Regions from separate parts of the Homo sapiens genome. Here all the other regions are linked to region 1. The links come from fine-mapping of genetic effects on gene expression. A gene starts in region 1. Each other region holds a variant in brackets. All regions are shown on one strand. Distances are from middle to middle.

Region 1 (6,457 bases):
ACATATGGCATACTTTAAGTGTTATATCAGGATGTTTAGCAACAAAGGCTGATATTTACTCACAGGAAAGAAGAAGGAGCAATTTCAGTCTGCCTTATGATTTCCAAAAGATAGTACTCTTCGCAGCTGAGTTAACAAATCCCTTCCCAACAAGGGGTGGGGCATTCAGGAGAAAAGCAAGGTCCCTGAAGAGCAGCTTAAAGGATAGGTAAAATGGCATCTATGGGCTTGTCATCTATCCCCATGGCCATACAGTTCTGGGGTGACAGAGACCCATTATAATGGGTCAAAACAGAATAAGCAACCCAGAAGGAAGTTAATGTTCTTACCTGCCACGTCAAGGGTTACCCAAGGCTTCTCCAGAGATAATAACTAGTTGTCTGATGGGAGCTGTGCTGGAAAGTCTCAGACCCCGTCACTCTTGGGTTTGCCTGGCTATTTCAGCCATCATTGCTTCAGGTGCCAATGGCTCCCTTCAGAGCACTGGGCAATCCCTCTTCCAAAGGCCAGTTTTCTTACAGTGTGCACACTGATTAATGCCCAAGGCAAGGTGACTCTGACTTCCCACCTTTCAGCTTCCCTTGTTCAGGCCAAGAACCAGGAGGGCAACCCCATGTGGGAGGTAAGCTTAAGTCTGCAGCCAAGAGCTGCACCTTGTGGGAGGTCCTTCTTACTCCTTCTGCTTCCTCTGCTTTGTCCCTGTTATTGAAAACTAAAAATACCATATCCAAAAGCTGTTCCATATGGGAGTTTGGGGACCCATAGCTGCTTTTTCTAGTTTCCTATGGATATCAAGGGCAGACTGGGTTATAAAATGTACTCTCAAAAGGGTTTGTCCTTCCCTTGAAGCAGGATCAGTGTTAGTATATTTCCTAATTGCCTCAACTAAATGCCCTTGAAACAAAGCTGGATTCTCATCTTTGTCCTGAGAAACTTCCTTAATTTTTCATAGTTAACAGGCTTTTTCATACATTTCTTCATCCCTTCCAACAAACAAGTGACCATATGATCGCTCCTCCCCAAGTTGTCACTGCCCCTTTGATAGTTCCACTCTGGATCTTGATCTGGAACTGCTCTACCTCCTGCCTGATATGTATTATGGTTTGGGTTGTTAGCCAATGCCTCATCTGCATGAGCCCTAGCTGTCCCCAAAATGCATTGTTTCTCTTCCACTGTACAACACAGAGACAACAAAACATGGAGATCCTGCCAAGTTAACTATAGGTCAGAATTAATTTCTCAAATTAATCTATGAATCTTCCTGGGTCTTCAGAGAAATCACCAAACTTCTCTTTACATAGAGTCAAATCAGACAAAAAAAAAAAAAGGGAACATGTACTCTCACAGTGCCTTCTTCCCCATTTGCCACCTCTCTAAGTGGACAAAGGTTTCCCTTTGGAGGTTGATAGGAGGCTCCACTAGGGGTAGTACTCACCAGGCTAAGTTCCTCAGGGAGTGGTGGGTATAGAGTGGGGCTAGATGGGTAAGGAGGATGGGACAAAGGGTTCTCCAAGGGGATAGAGGGAGAAAGGACAGACACATCTGAACCTTCAGAGCTGACAGAAGGAGGTTCTGCTCCACCCAAAACTGCCTGCTGAACCAAGGTTGCTTGCATTAAAGGATCATCTAGTATGTCTAGCTTTTTTTCCTCTTTTCCTCTCATCAAACATGATTCACATTATCCAAATAACATAAGTGAGCTGAGTCATGAATCTTAGATAAACCACAACATGGACTTTGACAAAAATGTTGAATAAGGCAAGGGAAATGAAGAGGATTTAGATGGGAATGACCAGAGCAAGCAGGTTCTGGGCAATAGAGACAGTGTGGATTGAACAAGCAAAGCCGGTTTGCCTGAATGCAAGAAAGGAAAGAAGTGTTTTTAGTGTGCAAAGTGAAACAAAACATCAGAGTCCCCTGATTTCCATCCTAGTGCTTCTCGATCACACCTAGTCGGCATAGCAGCAACAAAACATAATCTAATTTTATTGCTCATAGCTGTTGAATACCAAATCTCAATCAGCAATTTTAAAGACGGAGCCGTCAATGCTTTTTGTTCCCAATGTTTCAAGAGCAGACACATGGAAATCAGGAGGCACATAGGAAAAGAGTAAGTTAAAATCCCTAAGACCATTTAGATAAAGTCTCCCGAAAATGACAGTGAAACACAGACAGCAACCAAGAAATTGATTTATGCAGCAAGGAGGACAAGGCAGATTAATACAAAGTGCATAGCCTGCAGTGCCAAACCCTTTTTTAGCAGAGAGGGACTTTACTGAGAGGGCCCTCTAACCCCCTAAATCTTAGAAGGAACTCTAAACCTTTTAAGTTGGTCCTCTAATCCGAGGTCAGTCAAGCATCTTTGCCTTTTATTAACAGGGGTCTCTAATTCACCCTGTCTTCGGAGAGACTCTAATTCCCCTAAGTTGGGCCTCTAACCCAATCCCATTCTTTACCCGGGTACCCCACCACTTACCCAAAGTCATCCAATCAGTGCTATAGTCCATTTCCTTTGGGTTGGTGGGGAGGTTCTTCAGTATCGGTCCCTCATGGTTGCCAGAAATGTTACAGGACCAGGGTTCCAATCCAGACCCCTAGAGAGGGTTCTTGGAGCTCATGCAAGAAAGAATTCAGGGCGAGTCCACAGTGCAAAGTAAAAGCAAGTTTATTAAGAAAGTACAGTGGTAAAAGGACAGCTACTCCACAGACAGAGTAGGACGTTCCCGAAAGTAAGAGGAGGAACACATCCACCCTAGGTACAATGCTTGTATATATGGAGAGATGTGTTTTGCTACAAGGGTTTCTGATAAAGAATTAATTTTCTTAATTAGTGTATTTTGCAAGAATCAATATTATTTTCTTTAAAGCAAAATTAAGAATGCCTCTGTTCTCCAGATATTGGGATATCTGGACACTCCCAAGTCACGGTCTGCTTAGTAAATATTATTAATTTGCTCCCTTAATCATAAACATCTAGAGGCTAGGAATGCCTACCTTTCTGAGAAGGCAGCCCAGCAAGTCTCAGCCTCATTTTCGTAGCCCTCATTCAAAATGGAGTCACTCTGGTTCGAATGTCTCTGACATTATCAGGGTTGGTTTCTTCTGATGTCTCTCTCCTTGGCTTGTAGATGGCCATCTTTTCTTTGTGTCTTCACATGGTCTTCCCTCTGTATGTGTCTGTGTCCCAATCTCGTCTTCTTACAAGGACACAGTCAGATTCAATTACAGACACTCTAATGACCTCATTTTAACTTAATTATCTCCTGAAAGACCTTATCTCCAAATACAGTTACATTTGGAGGGAGTGAGGATTAGGACTTTAACATATGAATGTTTGGGGGACACAATTCAACCAGTAACAGGAACTTAGATTGCACTGACATATTAATTTTCTCCCTGGTATTTCCATTCTCTTTGTCCTGTAGGTAGTTTTTTGGGTCACTGGGTTTTTTTGTTTGTTTGTTTGTTGTTTCCTTATTCCTTAACTCTTATAACTTAAAAATCTGCCTGGTAAACAGTTTCTAAGCAGTGATTCAAATTTATTGATATTTTTGGTAATGTTATTGATTAAAAAACATTTCAGATCCTTCTAAACTCAAGAAAAAAGAATGTTCTAAAGCAAAACTGAAACTGTCTATACTTCAACTTCCTCCTGCTTCTCAACTGGCACTCTGACACACCCTCAGAAAGTCAGAGTACTGGGAGAACAGAAGACTTCACAATTTAATGCCTCAGTTTTTAAAAAAGGATCCTTACACTTCATGTCTCCTAGCCATCAGAAGAGGAATGAGACAGCAAAAGTTCAAATGGCCTGTTTCAAGTTTCTGATATAAAACGATGACATTTTCAGGAAAATCCTGGTAAGTAAACTGAATCATTAAACCTTTATTTGTTATGCTTTTGAGGCGACAGCTATTTTTTAAAACTTCAGCTGTACTTTTTATATAAATATATGTTTGTACATAAACGATTACTTATAAAAATACTAGAGTAATTAGAAAAATCAATGGATTAAATACATGTCAGTATATTTAACTGATAATAACTTTGTAAGTGCTCTTCTAAAAAGAAACATACCATTAAGTGTAATTAGGATAGTGGGAGGGTTTCTGATTGTGGCAGGCAGGCTTTGGAAAAGAGGATAGAGAAACGATGCAAACAGGGTCAGGAATTTAAGCACTGAAGATTCTAAAGGAACGTGTGATCTTGTGTAATTACACAAAATTCTGTCTTCATAACGTAAGATGTTATTAAAACTTTTACATTTTATCAAAGTTAATACTCTGCAGAGGCTAAATATTATTCTATTAAAGTATTTCATTCACATACATCTTATCCAGCAATCTGGTTGAAAACTAAGAAAAAAAATGCAAAGTGTTCTTCAGGAAAACGAAACTAACTTGCTTGTGTGGCTTCTGTCTGCCAGACTATGCAAGGAGGGTGTGGGTAGCTCTCCTGGGCTACAGCCAGATTCTGAAGTGTGTTTCCCCTACATCAGTTCTAAGAATCCTGCAGAGCAGAACACCTCCCTAGGGCATGGATATCAGCGGTGTTGCTGAGGGTCTCTCAAAGATGGGGTGGGCTTGTCCCTGAGAGTTTGCTGACTTGGAAATTCTTGCTGAGCATCAAAGAGAGAAAACTGAAGTGTTGAGGATGCCAACCTGCAACTCCTTTGTCAATAACCAACGTTGCTAAAGATAATATTTGTCTTCACAATTGTTTCAAAACAGGACACTGAGGGCCCCTAGAAAGCCAAGACTTAAGTCAAGGCAATCACAAAATTTGTCCACACTAATCATGGTCATTTTGATTGTTACTTAGTTCCAACAGCATACATCCAGATGCTCTTAAAATTGTACTGGCTAAAACGAAAGAAAAAATCTGGAGTCTGTTTTTTCCATCTTTAGCATTTCCAGAGAGAGACTGGCTGGTTAAATTTCTGAAAGAGGACACCAGCTAAAAGAAGGTATTGCATCTCACCCGAGCAGACTGTGTCTGTGGAAAGTGTAAGCCCCTTGCCAGAAGAGCAGCTTCCCAGCAAAGGCAGAGGGTGAAAACAGCAAAGGTCTTAAGACACTGGGGACCTAGAGTCAAAAGGGACCTCCTCCAGGGAAAACGCTGTGTGAGAAATGGCCTCATTCGGTGACTGTGAGTGACACAGCAGAAAGTTGGTAAGGTGTAGTCTGTAACTAGGGTATCTACAAAAACTGCAGGAGAAAATATATTCATTTGTTTTGCTTTCCTTTTGAAAAAAAAACTTCCTTTTCATTATTTGTGACCAGATGATAGAAGCTGGAGTTCATTCTGGCCTAACGGGTAGCACAGTAAAGAGATTTCCCCAGATTTCTACCTGGAGTTCCAGCCAAGCGAAATAATTTCCCTAGGAAAATGAGGAAGTCCTTTGACCCACAGACACTGGTAGCTCAAGGCCTTTCAAATATTCATTACTTTTAACTACTCTAAGAAAATGTGTTACTCATTTAACAGATTTTTGTTAAGAAGCTATTATGTGCTAGGCAATGCCAGATAATGAACAAAATGTAAAGAAATTTGTCCTTATGGAGTGCATAGAATAATGGGTTGGACAGAAAATAAATAGGTTAAAATATATAAAATATTTGCTGCTTGTAAGTCCTAAGTAGATAAAAAATGAAGCCAGAAGAGGGATAGGAAATGTTGGGAGGTGGGATAAAGTTTTCAGTAGGCTGGCCAAACAGTGCCTTGCTGAGAAGGTGACATTTGACAAAAGATCTCAACAAAGTGAAAGAGTGAGCCCTGCTGGTATCCAGGGACATTCCAGGAAGGGAAAACAAGTGTAGTGGCTGGAAACAGGGGCAGGTGCTTCCTTCAGGAAGCAACGAGGAGGTCAGGGGACTGGGCCAGATTTAGAGGGAAAAATAAAAGACCTAATATCAGAGGATTAGCAGGGTACCAGATTGTGTGAGGCCTTGTCAGATGGAAAGCCACAGACAGGGTTGGACACAACATTGATATGATGTTTACATTTTAACAGGGTCATTCCGGCTGCTTTTTTGAGAAGTCCCTGAAGAGATCAATAACAGCAAGAGGGAACCTGGCAAGGAAGCTATTCCTATAATCCAGGAAAGAGATGAGGAAGGCTTGGACCAGGTGGTAGTGGTGTCAGGTAGTCAAATGCTGGGTATATTTTGAAGATACACCCCATAGGATTTGCTCCACATTGAATGTGGAATGCTGGAAGAGAGATAAAGTGTACCTGTCACATACTTTTTGAGTTTTATTTATTTTCTTAGAAGTAAGTACACAAAGAGATGCTACCTAGGAGAAGGGTATTCTTTTCACTATTCTTTCAAATTTTCTGTATGTTCAAACATTTTCATAGTAGAAAGTTGGGGGGAAAATCTGTTTCATAAACATTTCCTCAGCAGCAGTCCAGTCTATTGCATTTTAATTGGTTGTGATATCATTGTTTTATGCA
Region 2 (6,457 bases), 110 kb before region 1:
TGTATATATATATTATGTATATATTTTTTAATTATTTTTAAAAAATTAGTAAGCTGTAAAAGTGGTTTACTCCAGGGATTAGGAAAGTGACGGGTGAATGGGGCAGAAAGAAAACTGTTTGCTTTTTATTTAAAACCCTCTTGTTTATTAGGATTTTTGTCATGTGAAACTATTATTTTACATTATTTAAAACAGCACAGCATGGCAGAGGGAGGCAGAGAAAAACAAGTTAAAATAGAAGATGAGGAGTGCAGGTGTTATCAAAACTTGGTCCAAGCTGACCAACCAACAAGCACTCAGGATCTAGACAATGGATCAAGCTAGAAGGCCTGGCAACCTAGCAGAAACAATCAATGTTCAAACATTACTCAAGGCAGGGCTCCTTATGTCCCTGACCTTAGAGGAAGAAAGCAGGCACACCTTGCTATAAAGAAATTAATGCAATAGGGGAAGAAAAGTTCCCAGTATTGCTATATTTGTCAGCTGTGTTCATTTGCCATATGACGTAAAGACATTCTACAACCTACAATTTTCACTAAACTACCAAGATCATATTCTGAGAAAAAATGAAGGAATTCTTGAAAGATTATGAGACATTTAATGCATCTGTTTATGTTAAAGTACAGTACTCAAGAAACTAGTTCAGCAGTATGCAAACCTTACAGTGCATAATACAAAAGCTATCAGGCTCCCTCAAGTAGTTTCTTTCAAATGAAATACAATAATAAAGCAGTTTTGACTTTTAAAATTAACTTTCCTTGAAACAAATTGAGACAAATTTCAAGTGAAAAAGAAATTAAGTACTTCATTCATAGATGCACTTTAGCATAAACACATTCTGATTCTTATTCTCAATAAATCCCAACTATATGACTCTCTGTCAATCAACTCAGGAAATATCAAACAATGTAAAAATGTTCTCTCAGTTATAAAAGTGAACAAAACTGGGATTACTGTATCTTTTATTAAAGATGCTGAAACATGGCACATCTTAAGGAAGACAGGTGCAGAGGAAGTGCCACTTCTGTTTCATTTTTCAACCAACTGGGTGCATCATTATATGATAATCATTCCTCAGTCTATGTGGGGGATTATTCTGAGACCCTCCATAGACATCAAAATCCACGGATACTCAAGTTCTTTATATAAAATGGCACAGTACTTGCATATAACCTATCCGCATCCTCCTTATACTTTAAATCATCTTGATTACTTATAATGTCTAATACAATGCAAATGTATGTAAACAGTTATATTGTATTATTTTTTATTTTTATTATTTTTATGATTGCATTGTGATTTTTGTGTTGTATTGTTATTTTTGTTGCTGTTTTTTCTTTCCAAATATTTTCCATTTTCAGCTGGTTGAATCCAGAGACACAGAACACATGGATACAGAGAGCCGATTATACTTGGCATTTCATGTATTAAACTACCTAGTCATATAATCTGAGACTTACAAGATATAGAGTCAGTATTTCTTTATGCAGAAGCAAATATGTAAATTGTTTTTCCTATTTTCAGAATCATAAGAGTCAGTCCTAAGTTTTTCCATCTCAGCTATTCCAAGTAACTCTCCTTAGAGAGTTTGCACTCTACCAAAAACAAAAACCTTATTTCCAATAAAGGAGTGATGTGACTAGGAAAGAAAAGAGGAACACATAATCTGCCAAGAAAAAATTAACAAGTAGACAAGTAGGTATACTGTGCATATAAACTTGCTTAAAATATTTTTTAAAAATCACATCAGAATTCAGAAATATTCTATATCATGGGGTGATTCTCTCAAAAATCATTTCTAAAAGGAAAACATTTATGATTCTCTAGTTATCAACAAGAATTAGAATAGATATAAATGTTTTTAAAATTGAGAATATATAAATTCAGTTGGAAGTTAATTACTGCTCCTAAGATTACTAGAATGTAAAATGCTTATTCACTCTAATTCACTCATGTCCAAGCAAAGATTAAATCTTGCCTTCGGCTAAGTTCCACAAGCCCAAGTCAATTAAATACATTTTAAAAGTGTGGATGAATCCTGTATGAGTAGGCCCAACTAGAGAGCTCAAGAACAGGTGCAACACTGTACTGGGAAGACCAGAGGAAACAGAGCAAAAGAAAGAAAAACGCACAGAAAAAAAAACAAAAAAAAAGAGGTGTATCTAATTTATAAAGACAAAAATAAAAGAATGTTAGAATAACAATGTCTTTTATCTTTGTGGACTCAACGTGACCCACATGTCAACTAACTCTATCCTTATATCCCACATTATATCATCTACAAAAGAAGTGAACAAACTTATTATGTTCTCCCATATAAACAAAAGAGTGAAACAACAGGTGAAGTGAAAGAGGGAATGGTGTTAGGCAGGTGAATGGTGGCTGGCAAAGGATACTGTGCTGGTATGGGGTGGAGAAGAAATGCTAGCGGAGGGGCTATCATCACCACCAGACAGCTCCAACTGATAGCCCTGCTCTCTGAGTCACCCTGACACTGTCACTAAATCACCAAGTTAAAAACACAACTTTATCTAAGTTTTCCTAAGATACCTAAAGTAAAACCCCATTACAAAGAATTTCTTGGGATATCTGAATGTATGTGTGATGTACTTTTACCTATTTGCAGAGAATAAGACCAATTCTTCTTATTATCACATGCATGACTCACATATCTAAACATAGCATGCTTCTTATACACTGTATTACCTAAAATAACTATTAATTTAAATCTTTTCCATTTCAACCTTTTAACCTCATTCGATAACTGTAGCCACACCTCCTCCACATATCAGTATATCCATTAATTTAAAAAGTGCTGAGAAGCCACTTGATATCAATTTTTAAAAGCCCAAATAAGAATTTCTTTCAAAGACATTTTTTACAGTTAACACTCATCATGTAAGACATTTACTTTAGCATAGCTAAAATAGATTTTTAATTATATAAAAGTTTCAACACATCACCTGCTCCCTCAATTTCCTGCCACCAAATTCCACGCTCATTCTTTCCTATTATAACAGACAGTGACCTTTTCAAAGTCAATCTCTGCTATAATCCCTGCAAAGCCTTAGTATATTATTATGCTATTTTATTTTCAGCTTCTCACTCTCTCCTACCAATTTTCCAATATTGAGGTTTCCTCTTCTTAATTCTGCATCTGTCCTCATCACAAAATTTCCTCACCTTACACTTGATAGTTCAACCAACTCCCACCAAATCTGTCCCCAAAAGGTCAACTATGACTTCTTTGTTGCTATAAATCCAATAGATACATATTTTCAGTCTTCATTTTGCTTGGTAACTCCGCAACAAAGATTTCATTTCTGGTGTAGACAGTTTCCTATTCACAACTCTCATATCCTGGCCTACCTCAAGTCTTCCTGCTCCTCGTTCAGGTCCTCCTTAGTCTTGATCCCGGAAGGAGAGTTAGATCCGAATGCTTCCACTGTATGCACAACTTCCTTCTCTCTACAGCCTAATTTCTTTTTTTTTTTTTTTTTTTTT[TG/G]AGACGGAGTCTCGCTCTGTGGCCCAGGTGGGAGTGCAGTGGCGCAATCTCGGCTCACTGCAAGCTCTGCCTCCCAGGTTCACGCCATTCTCCTGCCTCAGCCTCCCGAGTAGCTGGGACTACAGGCGCCCGCCACCAGGCCCGGCTAATTTTTTTGTATTTTTAGTAGAGACGGGGTTTCACCGTGTTAGCCAGGATGGTCTCGATCTCCTGACCTCGTGATCCGCCCGCCTCGGCCTCCCAATGTGCTGGGATTACAAGCGTGAGCCACCGCGCCCGGCCTACAGCCTAATTTTATGGGTGCCTACTTTAATATAAGTCCTTCTTGATAGATTATGTTCTTTATGAAACCAAGGATTATACTGATTACACTGTATGTGGTTTATCACCATACTGACAATTTCAAAGCAAAGTACCTGGCATAAACACTCTGTAAACTGCCTGAATTATTTTCACCCAATAAGCTGTTACTATATAACAGATTTATCACTACAAAATGAACTAAATGGATGCTTTGGTTCAAATGGATTTGCTTTTTCAGGACCCAGAATGGCTTGTTGGAAATCTCTAAATACATTCAACACACTAAAACTAATTCTCTATTTATTTAACCTAATAAGTGTAAATGACATCGTCAAGTTTCTACTAATGACAGTTAATCACTCTCAAAATGGACAAAATGAAAGTATCACTGGTACTACTCAATTTATATCCTAACCAAATAAAAAATGTGTTAACTTCAAGCTGGGCGCGGTGGAGTTAGAGACCAGCCTGGCTGACATGGCAAAACCCCATCTCTACTAAAAATACAAAAATTAGCCGCGCATGGTGGCGTGCACCTGTAATCCCAGCTATTCTGGAGAATGAGGCAGGAGAATCGCTTGAACCCAGGAGGCAGAGGTTGCAGTGAGCCAAGATCACGCCACTGCACTCCAGCCTGGGCGACAGAGTGAGACTCCATCTTTAAAATAAAAAACAAACAAACAAACAAACAAACAAAAAAACATGTAACTTCAATCTGCACATTTTAAAGAAAAAAAAAAACCATAGAGACTTAAACAGCATTTCTGGGAGGAAAATATCTAGCCCTTAGCCTATAACCAGCAAAGACTTGTAATATGAGATAATTTTTTAAAAATTAATTCAAACTTATATTAATGTTTTGCTCTATTATAATTCTTTTAGTTTTCAGGTACTAGCAATCAACATCTACAACAACAGTGAGTCATGCTCACTGAATGTCAGAATTTCCATATAGGAGAGACAAAGGGGATGCAATCTGGGATGGGTATGAATTTAATTCGAAACTAGATTTGTTTGGCAAGCACACTATTTTACTTAGATTGTACATTTATTTGTGATGGCTCTAGAGGAATGTTGGAAATTACACCTAGGGATTAGAGCTTCCCCAAGACTGTCACAAGCAATGCAAATCCTTCATTTTAAGCAAACCAAAATGCTATTAATAAAGTTAGAGATAATAGCAAAATATGCAGTGGCTATTTTTCTGTTGTATATTTAATAATAAACAAAAGACATAACACATTGAATACATAATCACTTAACTATTACAAACATTATTATTATATAAATTGAAACCATACTTAAATTTTCCAAAAGACTTTTTATCATGATGAGCCAAACACTTGAACCATCTGGATCTCCAAAACAAGCTGCAATAATATCCTCAATATTTATAAGCTGGGCAAAGTTAAGGAAGAATTCCCAAGAGATGCATTGGAGATATGAACAGATAATTTATTCTTGTCTACAACTCTATAAAAATAGAATCAGTTGGATTGGAAAAAATATGAAAAATGAGTTTCAATGAGGTGACAAGAAAAAGCAGGAATGAAAAGTATCTGATCTTTCACACCTTAAAGCCTATTATTTATAATTTTATTGTACTGCCCATATATAAATATGAATGTTAAACTAGAACACAACACTTTATACTAATTTTCAATGTTTATTAACATTTTTACACAGCTGCTACATAAGAAGCTGACAACAGAATCTGCTTTAAAACATTTACATGACCTTACCTTATACAACTGTAATGTTTAAAAGTGCTGGCAGCTTTTTGACATTCAAGGCACAACTGAATAGCTCCTGGATAATCTTCCTCCTTAAGGTAACAACAACAGGAGTCATTGGAATAGAAACATTTTTTCTTAAAGCCCCTGATAAAAAAAAATCTCTGTTCATATTCTAACCAAAAGTTACAGAATCAAAAAACTTTAATTCCTCTTAGAATATCAATGATAGATAAGTGACAAAATATAAGAGGCAACTAGTTCCAGGCCTAAAATATATACATAGAAGAAATATTTAAAATATTCTATTCCTTCAAAGTAACAGCCCCCTGAGACCATTTCCATGACTTATGGATAAATCCTACATTAAATCATTAGCTGCTTCACAGGAAAGGTTTTCTTTAACTGTTAACATATCTTCTTTCAGTACTGCCTACATAAAATGTTTCAAAATAGTATGCATTCTATTTGTAATTGATAGTCAACAATTTACCACCAAGAAATCAATAAATAGTTCTAAAGAAATAAATTTAGAAAAAAAACACTAATTAATAAACTCAGAGTATTTTTATCACCTAACAGTAATTTAATGCCCAATGAATTTTTCATATGGGTTTCTGAAACCCTAGTTAGCAGTAATAGTTGAGAAGTAATAAAACAATTATACAGAAAACCACAAAAACTTTTCCCTATGCTCAATTCTAAATTCAACAGATGCAATTCAAACCACTGGTGATGCTGATAATGACAAAGTACCTACCCCAAGGAGCTCAAGTATTATGAGGAGACACACATATTACATTATGCTTTGGTGAACCTTATGACAGAAGTAGACAGAAAATGCTAAGAATGCATCAAAGAAAAAACATATGGCTCACTCAGAAAAGCAATTAATACATGATACTGAACAAAACTA
Region 3 (6,457 bases), 170 kb before region 1:
AATAATATCTAAATATATGTTATCTCATAGTATTATCCTATTAGTATATAGATAACATATAGTATGTATTATATAATATATCATTATTATATGATTATAAACAGAAATACTAGAATGTAGTTTAAAGTGAATGACAAACTTTTTTTCCTTAAACATTACATATGAAAATATTTTTTTCTTAAACGATAACTTAATCATAAAACATGGTTTTAAAATTTCAAAACACATAAGAAAGTATTGTGATACTTCTGTAAGACTGCACTTATGACTTCAATGAACTCTATAACTTTATCCAAGTATCCGAAACAAGGATACTTTAAAAACAACTTATTCAAAAAAACAAAAGAAGCTACTATTTTAATTATCTGTTATGTAATCAAGAATTTTCCTGTTAAATACACATTGTTTTACATTTCAATTAGGAAAATAACAGAAAGGAACCAATGGTTCTCAAAGTGTGGTCCCTAGACAAGCTGCATCAACATTACCTGGAAACTTGTTAAAGGTGCCCGTTTTCAGGTTATACCCTAGACCTACTGAATCAGATACTCTGGGAGTGGGGGACAGCAATCGGTGTTTTGTTTGTTTGTTTATTTGAGACAGAGTCTTGCCCTGTCACCCAGGCTGGAATGCAGTGGTGCGATCTCAGCTTGCTGCAACCTTGGCTTGCTGCAACCTCTGCCTCCTGGGTTCTCATGCCTCAGCCTCCCAAGTAGCTGGGATTACAGGAGTGCCCCACCACATCTGGCTAACTTTTGTATTTTTAGTAGAGACAAGGTTTTGCTATGTTGGCCAGGCTGCTCTTGAACTCCTGACCTTAAGTGATCCATCTGTCTTGGCCTCCCAAAGTGCTGGGATTACAGGTATGAGCCACCAAACCTGGCCAGCAATCTGTGTTTTAACAAGCCCTCTAGGTGATACTGACGCATGCCAAAATTTAAAAATCAAAGGCTAGATCACCATAAAAGATGAATAAAGCAATAAAGCACAGTCCTTCTTTCTTCTTGATAGGCCCTCATGCCTTGGTTTTCAAGACCTCTGCTTCACCTCCTAATTTTCCTCCTGCCTTTCTGCTGTTGATTCATGACCTTCTTCACTGACTGATCTTGCTGTTTGCCCTTCCAGTGTATCCATATCCACTGCTGTTTCCTAGGTTTCCACTCAGCTATCTTGTGTTGCATGTTTTTGTGTGTACTAAGTGGGTAGGAAGGATAGTAGAGCTTCTGTCTGGTTTTCTATGAACTCAAATTGTTAAGAGCCTCTGCCAAGATAAACTCATCCACTAACCTTTTGAGTTCATAGAAAATCAGACAGAAGTCCTAGTCCTTCCTAGTCATTTTAAAACAATGACTCAAATTATGTATCCTGATCATGTTTTTTCTCCTGACCTCCACATCCATCTATGTAACTACCTATAGACTATTTCTACTTAAATGTCCCAGAGGTACCTCTATATGTCCAAAGTCTACCCTACCATCAGCTCGGAAAACTTGGTCTTCCTCTCATCTTCCCTTTTTCATTTCTGGCATTATAACTGGTTAATCACACAAACCTAAAATCTGAGTGATCGCTCATCACTGATTCACCAATTCTGTCTGTTGTATTTCTAAAATCTCTCTAATCCATCTTCTTCTCTATATTACAATGGCCACTGCCATCCATATCCAGGCTTATGTCCTCATCATCCCTTGCCTGGGAGACTTCGACAGTCTGCCATCCAGTCTTTGACCTTCTCCAGTTTCCCCTTAGCCAAAGTCAATCCCTTATTTACACTTTTTTTAAAAACAGCAAATCTGCTGGGGTCTCTCCCCTGTTAGAAATCCCTTAAGGAGCTTATGTCCAAGCTGCATAGGACAGTCTTTGAGGCCTTCTCATATCCTGTTCTTGCCCATCTTTCTCGTCACATCTCCTCTGCTTCTGCCTCCAGGCCCCGTCATGTTTCTTACATTCCAGCAAACTAGACAACTGGAGTCTCTGAATACACCATGTCTTGCACATGTTCTTTCTGTCCAAAATGCCTTTACCAACTTCATCTATGAGAACCTATTCATCTTTCAAACTCAATTAGGGTGTCAGCCCCCATAGTGAGTCAGTCCTTTCACTTCCTACCCAAAAAGGAAAATTAATCATCATTCTTTCTCTTGCCTCTTTTCTGTTTATTTATGCTTATAACAACACACTGTAAATTTTTTTATTTTGTATTTATTTCCCTTGTTGAACTCCTTAAGTACAAAGTACAAAGACTATGGTTTCTTCATGACTGTAACTCCAACAGCTAGCCAGAAACAAAGTAGTGACTCAAAAAAAAAAAAAAAATCTGGTGGACTAAAACTAATGAATGCAATATACATGGCAAAAAAAGAACTGATTTCCTTAATGTTGAAATTAAAACCTATAATTTCCTTATTATATAAAAATGAGCAGTGGATATGAATAAGTAGTTCGCAAGTAAATAGAAATGTCTTTTAAGCATATGAAAAGATGCTTCAATTCACTCATAATTAAATACATTTTTGAATGAGATGCCATGTTTAACCTATCAGACTAGCAAGTACCCAAAGCTGGAGGATACACAGTGTTGCTGAGACTAAGAAAAGAGCTACCCTCAAATACTGCTAATGAATGAGTAATTTAACAGAACTCTTTTAGTAAGCTCGTTAGTAACCTCATTGGTAAATTGAGAATGTCCATCAAAACTGGAAATGTATATACTCTTTGATCCAGCGAGAGGAAGTATTTATAGGAATTTGTTCTATAGCTCTATCTGTATATACACAAAGATATTTCTTCAAGGATACTTGCTGTGGCAGTTTGTAGTATGAAATGACTTAACCTATATGTTGAAAAGTAGAAGATGTATAAATTGTGGCACTTATAATATTACATCTATACAATAGGAAAAAAGAATGAAATCCACACATACTAAGATAGGTAATACATTAAGATATTTTAAGTGTAACCTTAAGATATTTTAAGTAAAAAATCCAGATAAAAAACAGTATAAATAGTGTAATCCAATTTTTGAAACAAAACAACAACAAAAAAAAATAGGAGAGAGGAGATATACGTATTAAATATATTTGTACTAACACTAATGTTTCCAGAAGAAAACAGGAGAAACTGAGTCGTTTTGTCTGAGGAAGGAGACTTGCAGCTCAGGGGCTCTGCTTATACCTTGGGGTATTTTAATTTTTAACCATTTTTATGCATCACCTTTCAATTTAAAATGCTCAATGATAAAGAATATGCCAGCAAACTAAACTGCTGAGAAACTTCAGCAGTCTGTCATCTAGTATTTGACCTTCCCCCAATGAAAAGAATGTCCTAATGAA[G/T]GAGTGGATCTCTTGTCTCCCATGCCTGTGTTCTCTCCACCACATAAGCTGCATCTCAGGCACATTATACCTAAATATCCCTTAGATGCACATATCCTAGTTTCATTTTAAATACTGATGCATGTGCTAGGGTGCTAGGGTATATTTTTTCTAGCTACTAAAGTGGTAATTTTGTTGTTGTCGGCAGTTCTTACAAGCATGGACTTCGGTAATCTAGCTCCTGCTCCTCAGACCTATCACACCTGCTCACAAGCTGCTTCCAGGAGAGAGAACCGTGAATACCAAGGCTATTTCACTGATGAGACACATTTCCTAAAATTTCTCTTTCACTGTCTGCAAGAAACCATCAGGATGACAGAATTTTCTCTTTATATAATACAAGCAACTGTTCTGATCAGTCCTCTCCACTAGTGCAAAGCCTCCCTGAGCCTTTCTAATAAATTTAGTTACCACCTGGGGTAAGGAAGCCCCATTAACACTCTTTTGTTTACGCTCTGCTAATTATCTGCCAAGTAAATACTACTTGAAAAGGACATTTTAAATATGCCTTTAATGTTCTAATATGGTTTCCCAAATACTCAATAATTAGTTCCTTCATCTTCTCAAGCACCAAAAATTAATCTGTCTTATTTACACAACCGTACTTCTCCCTTTGTAGGAAGAAGCATGACCTCTGCCAGTTTATAATCTTCAGGCACTTCTATGCAATAACAACAGCGGATGGAATAGTGCATTTGCTAGTCAGAGGCCTCTGAGACAGTGGCTTCCTTAAAGTTCTGTTTTGTATATATCTAAAAACTGAAGATAAAAACATCCCAGGGAGAGAGAAAATGATAGGCATAAAAGTCTACTGGGGATCCCAACTGGGGTGATAATGGCAGCACCTAATCCCAGTCCTAAATGAGAAGATATAAAAGTTAAATTGTCATACTCGGCATTGTTTCCTAATTGCAAGTCCAGTAAAAGATATGGTAGTGGAGAAAGCTGAAATTGCAATAGTCAAATTCTCTTCACAGAGTAAGGCTTTATTCAGGACTGTGCCATACTTTACTTTACTTTAAAGGGTCTTGAATGTGGCTTTTCTCAGTTCCTACAAACCCACTGTTCAAAAGCAAGGCCCACTATGTTGATCAGTAATCCTCATACAAAAATTTGTTGTTACTAACATCTGAATTCAGCACCAGGAACATATTTCTACCATTATTATAAAGGCCTGTATCTTTTTCTCAGATAACGAGGATAGTGGTATATATTGTTTCTTCAATTCCCTTATGCCTACCAAGAAGTTAAGCATTGTATTTGATGTCTGCATTAAATATGATATGATAAAGCATGATGTGCCCACTCTTCAACTTTGTCTTAGCCTTGTATTTTATTTTATTTGATTATAATGAAAATATGCCTTCAGCGTAAACAGCAACATGACTACCTCCAGCCCCTTTTGAACTAGGTAAGGTAAAAAATATAAACAACTGCTTAGATGTGTTTGATTATATTATTTTTCCCAATTCCCTGTAAGAGCAATATACAGCCCTGCCCACTTCCCTTGACTTGCAGTGCTTCCTGCGGCAGAAGCATACTTCTCCCCTCCCTTTGCCAAGCCTGACTTGCTTTGGCCATGACATGTCAGAGGAAGTCAAGGGTGACACATGGAAGCAGAAGCTTCAGGAGTCATAACATAGTTTGCTTTTGCTCTTCTCCCCATGTTCCAGATTGGTTGGTACTATTCTTTCAACCTACATCTTAGAATGAAGAGACACACGGAGCAGAGCTGCATATAAACAGGAGACAATGCGTATCACGAGTGAAAAATAAAACTTTGTGGTTGAACGTCTTGATGCACCAACAGTTGCTTGTTACTTCAACATAATCTAGCAAAAGCTGACTACATCTCAAGGAATGTGTTCGGACATTGAAAACTGCTGAGTCTAGAAGGCTAAGGAGGATGACAATGATTCTGAAAGGTCTGAATTTCTATCAGTGAGGACAAGATAAAGGAACTGAGCCCATGGAGCCTGAAAAATGGATTGTGGGGTGGTCGGTATGAGAAAAGGAAGCACGATAACTACCACCACATATCTGAAAAGTGATCACATGGAAGAATAGAAGAATTAGAAGAAATGGAAGATAGAGGAAATAGAAGAATAGAAGAAATAGAAGATAGAAGAAATAGAAGAATAGAAGAAATAGAAGAAAAAAATGCACGAACTTATTCTTCTTGCTTCTAAGGGCATAACTCTTAGACCAAAAGGACAAACCAAAGGCTAGAATCACAGAGAGACAGGTTTTGGTTTACCTTAGGGAAGATACTTCTACTAATGAGATCAGTCTAATGATAGAATGAGTAGTCTTGCAAACCACTGTGTTTCCAATGACTGGGAGTCATGAAACAGAAGCTAGACAGCTACCATGTATGAGAGACATTACAGAAAGACAACCGACTTCATGGCAACTTACACCAATGACCACTCAGCACTCTCCCAATTCTGATTCTACAAATTCTCGAGAGTTATTTCTGACACTATGTTCAGTCAGTTCTCTTGGAAGAAGAAGAAAAGCTTAGCTCCCTGGCAATAATTAGCCACAGAATAGCTTTTTAGAATCTATCCTTTTTTCTGAGCATCATGAAAAGGTATACCTTTCTGTTCTTCTCAATTCAGTAATATTTTTTGCTCTTTCTAGAGAAACCGTGACTCCTAAAAAGCATTCTGTACATTTTATCCTATTCATTAATTAAATTTAAGAATTATCTTAAAGAACACAGACTATTTCAACAGAGCTAAGGTTAATCAAACTAGGCAATAGGTAAATACCATCTCCATAGATAGAATATAGAGATTTTTATGGAAAACCACTAAAATTCCTGCTTGGAACAATGAAGTTTAATAGGAGAAGACATCTCTATAACTTATTTGTCAAATACATAGACTTATTTGTGAGATACAAAGGCTAAAAGCATACAAGATGTTGAAATACTGATTTTAAAAAAATCCACATCATCCTAAAACCTGAATATTTAAAATATCATTTCTTCATATTGTTTGCCTTCTACAAAATCATCAATAAAGGTCTTATCTGTTACAAAAACAACATTTCCTATAATCTGAACATTTAGCTTGTAAATC

Alleles and levels. Alleles are on the strand shown, and positions count from the first base shown. SD is a standard deviation of normalised expression in the study named.
As copies of TG replace G in region 2, the expression in Th17 cells of the gene that starts at base 3,669 in region 1 goes up (large effect, 2.0 SD a copy in Schmiedel 2018).
As copies of T replace G in region 3, the expression in skeletal muscle of the gene that starts at base 3,669 in region 1 goes down (moderate effect, 0.68 SD a copy in GTEx).

What was found. PIP is the estimated chance that this variant, and not a neighbour inherited with it, causes the effect.
Region 2: its variant is the best candidate, but not a certain one, in a credible set for the expression of SAMD9L in Th17 cells (Schmiedel 2018, PIP 0.56).
Region 3: its variant is the best candidate, but not a certain one, in a credible set for the expression of SAMD9L in skeletal muscle (GTEx, PIP 0.57).

The regions. Positions count from the first base shown.
Region 1 is chr7:93,145,597-93,152,053 of GRCh38, reverse strand. It overlaps SAMD9L (sterile alpha motif domain containing 9 like), which reads left to right and starts at 3,669. Exons shown (of 5, transcript NM_152703.5): 1 at 3,669-3,860; 2 at 4,908-5,171; 3 at 6,014-6,457. RefSeq lists an enhancer at 4,370-4,469.
Region 2 is chr7:93,258,726-93,265,182 of GRCh38, reverse strand. VPS50 (VPS50 subunit of EARP/GARPII complex) reads right to left here. Exons shown (of 28, transcript NM_017667.4): 9 at 5,551-5,633. Among named protein-coding and RNA genes, the nearest start is that of VPS50, 30 kb to the right of the region's middle. RefSeq lists a silencer at 3,606-3,808 and an enhancer at 3,653-4,154. The variant TG/G (reference allele first, on the strand shown) is at 3,505.
Region 3 is chr7:93,311,696-93,318,152 of GRCh38, reverse strand. The region is part of intron 20 of VPS50 (VPS50 subunit of EARP/GARPII complex); the gene reads right to left. Among named protein-coding and RNA genes, the nearest start is that of VPS50, 83 kb to the right of the region's middle. The variant G/T (reference allele first, on the strand shown) is at 3,333.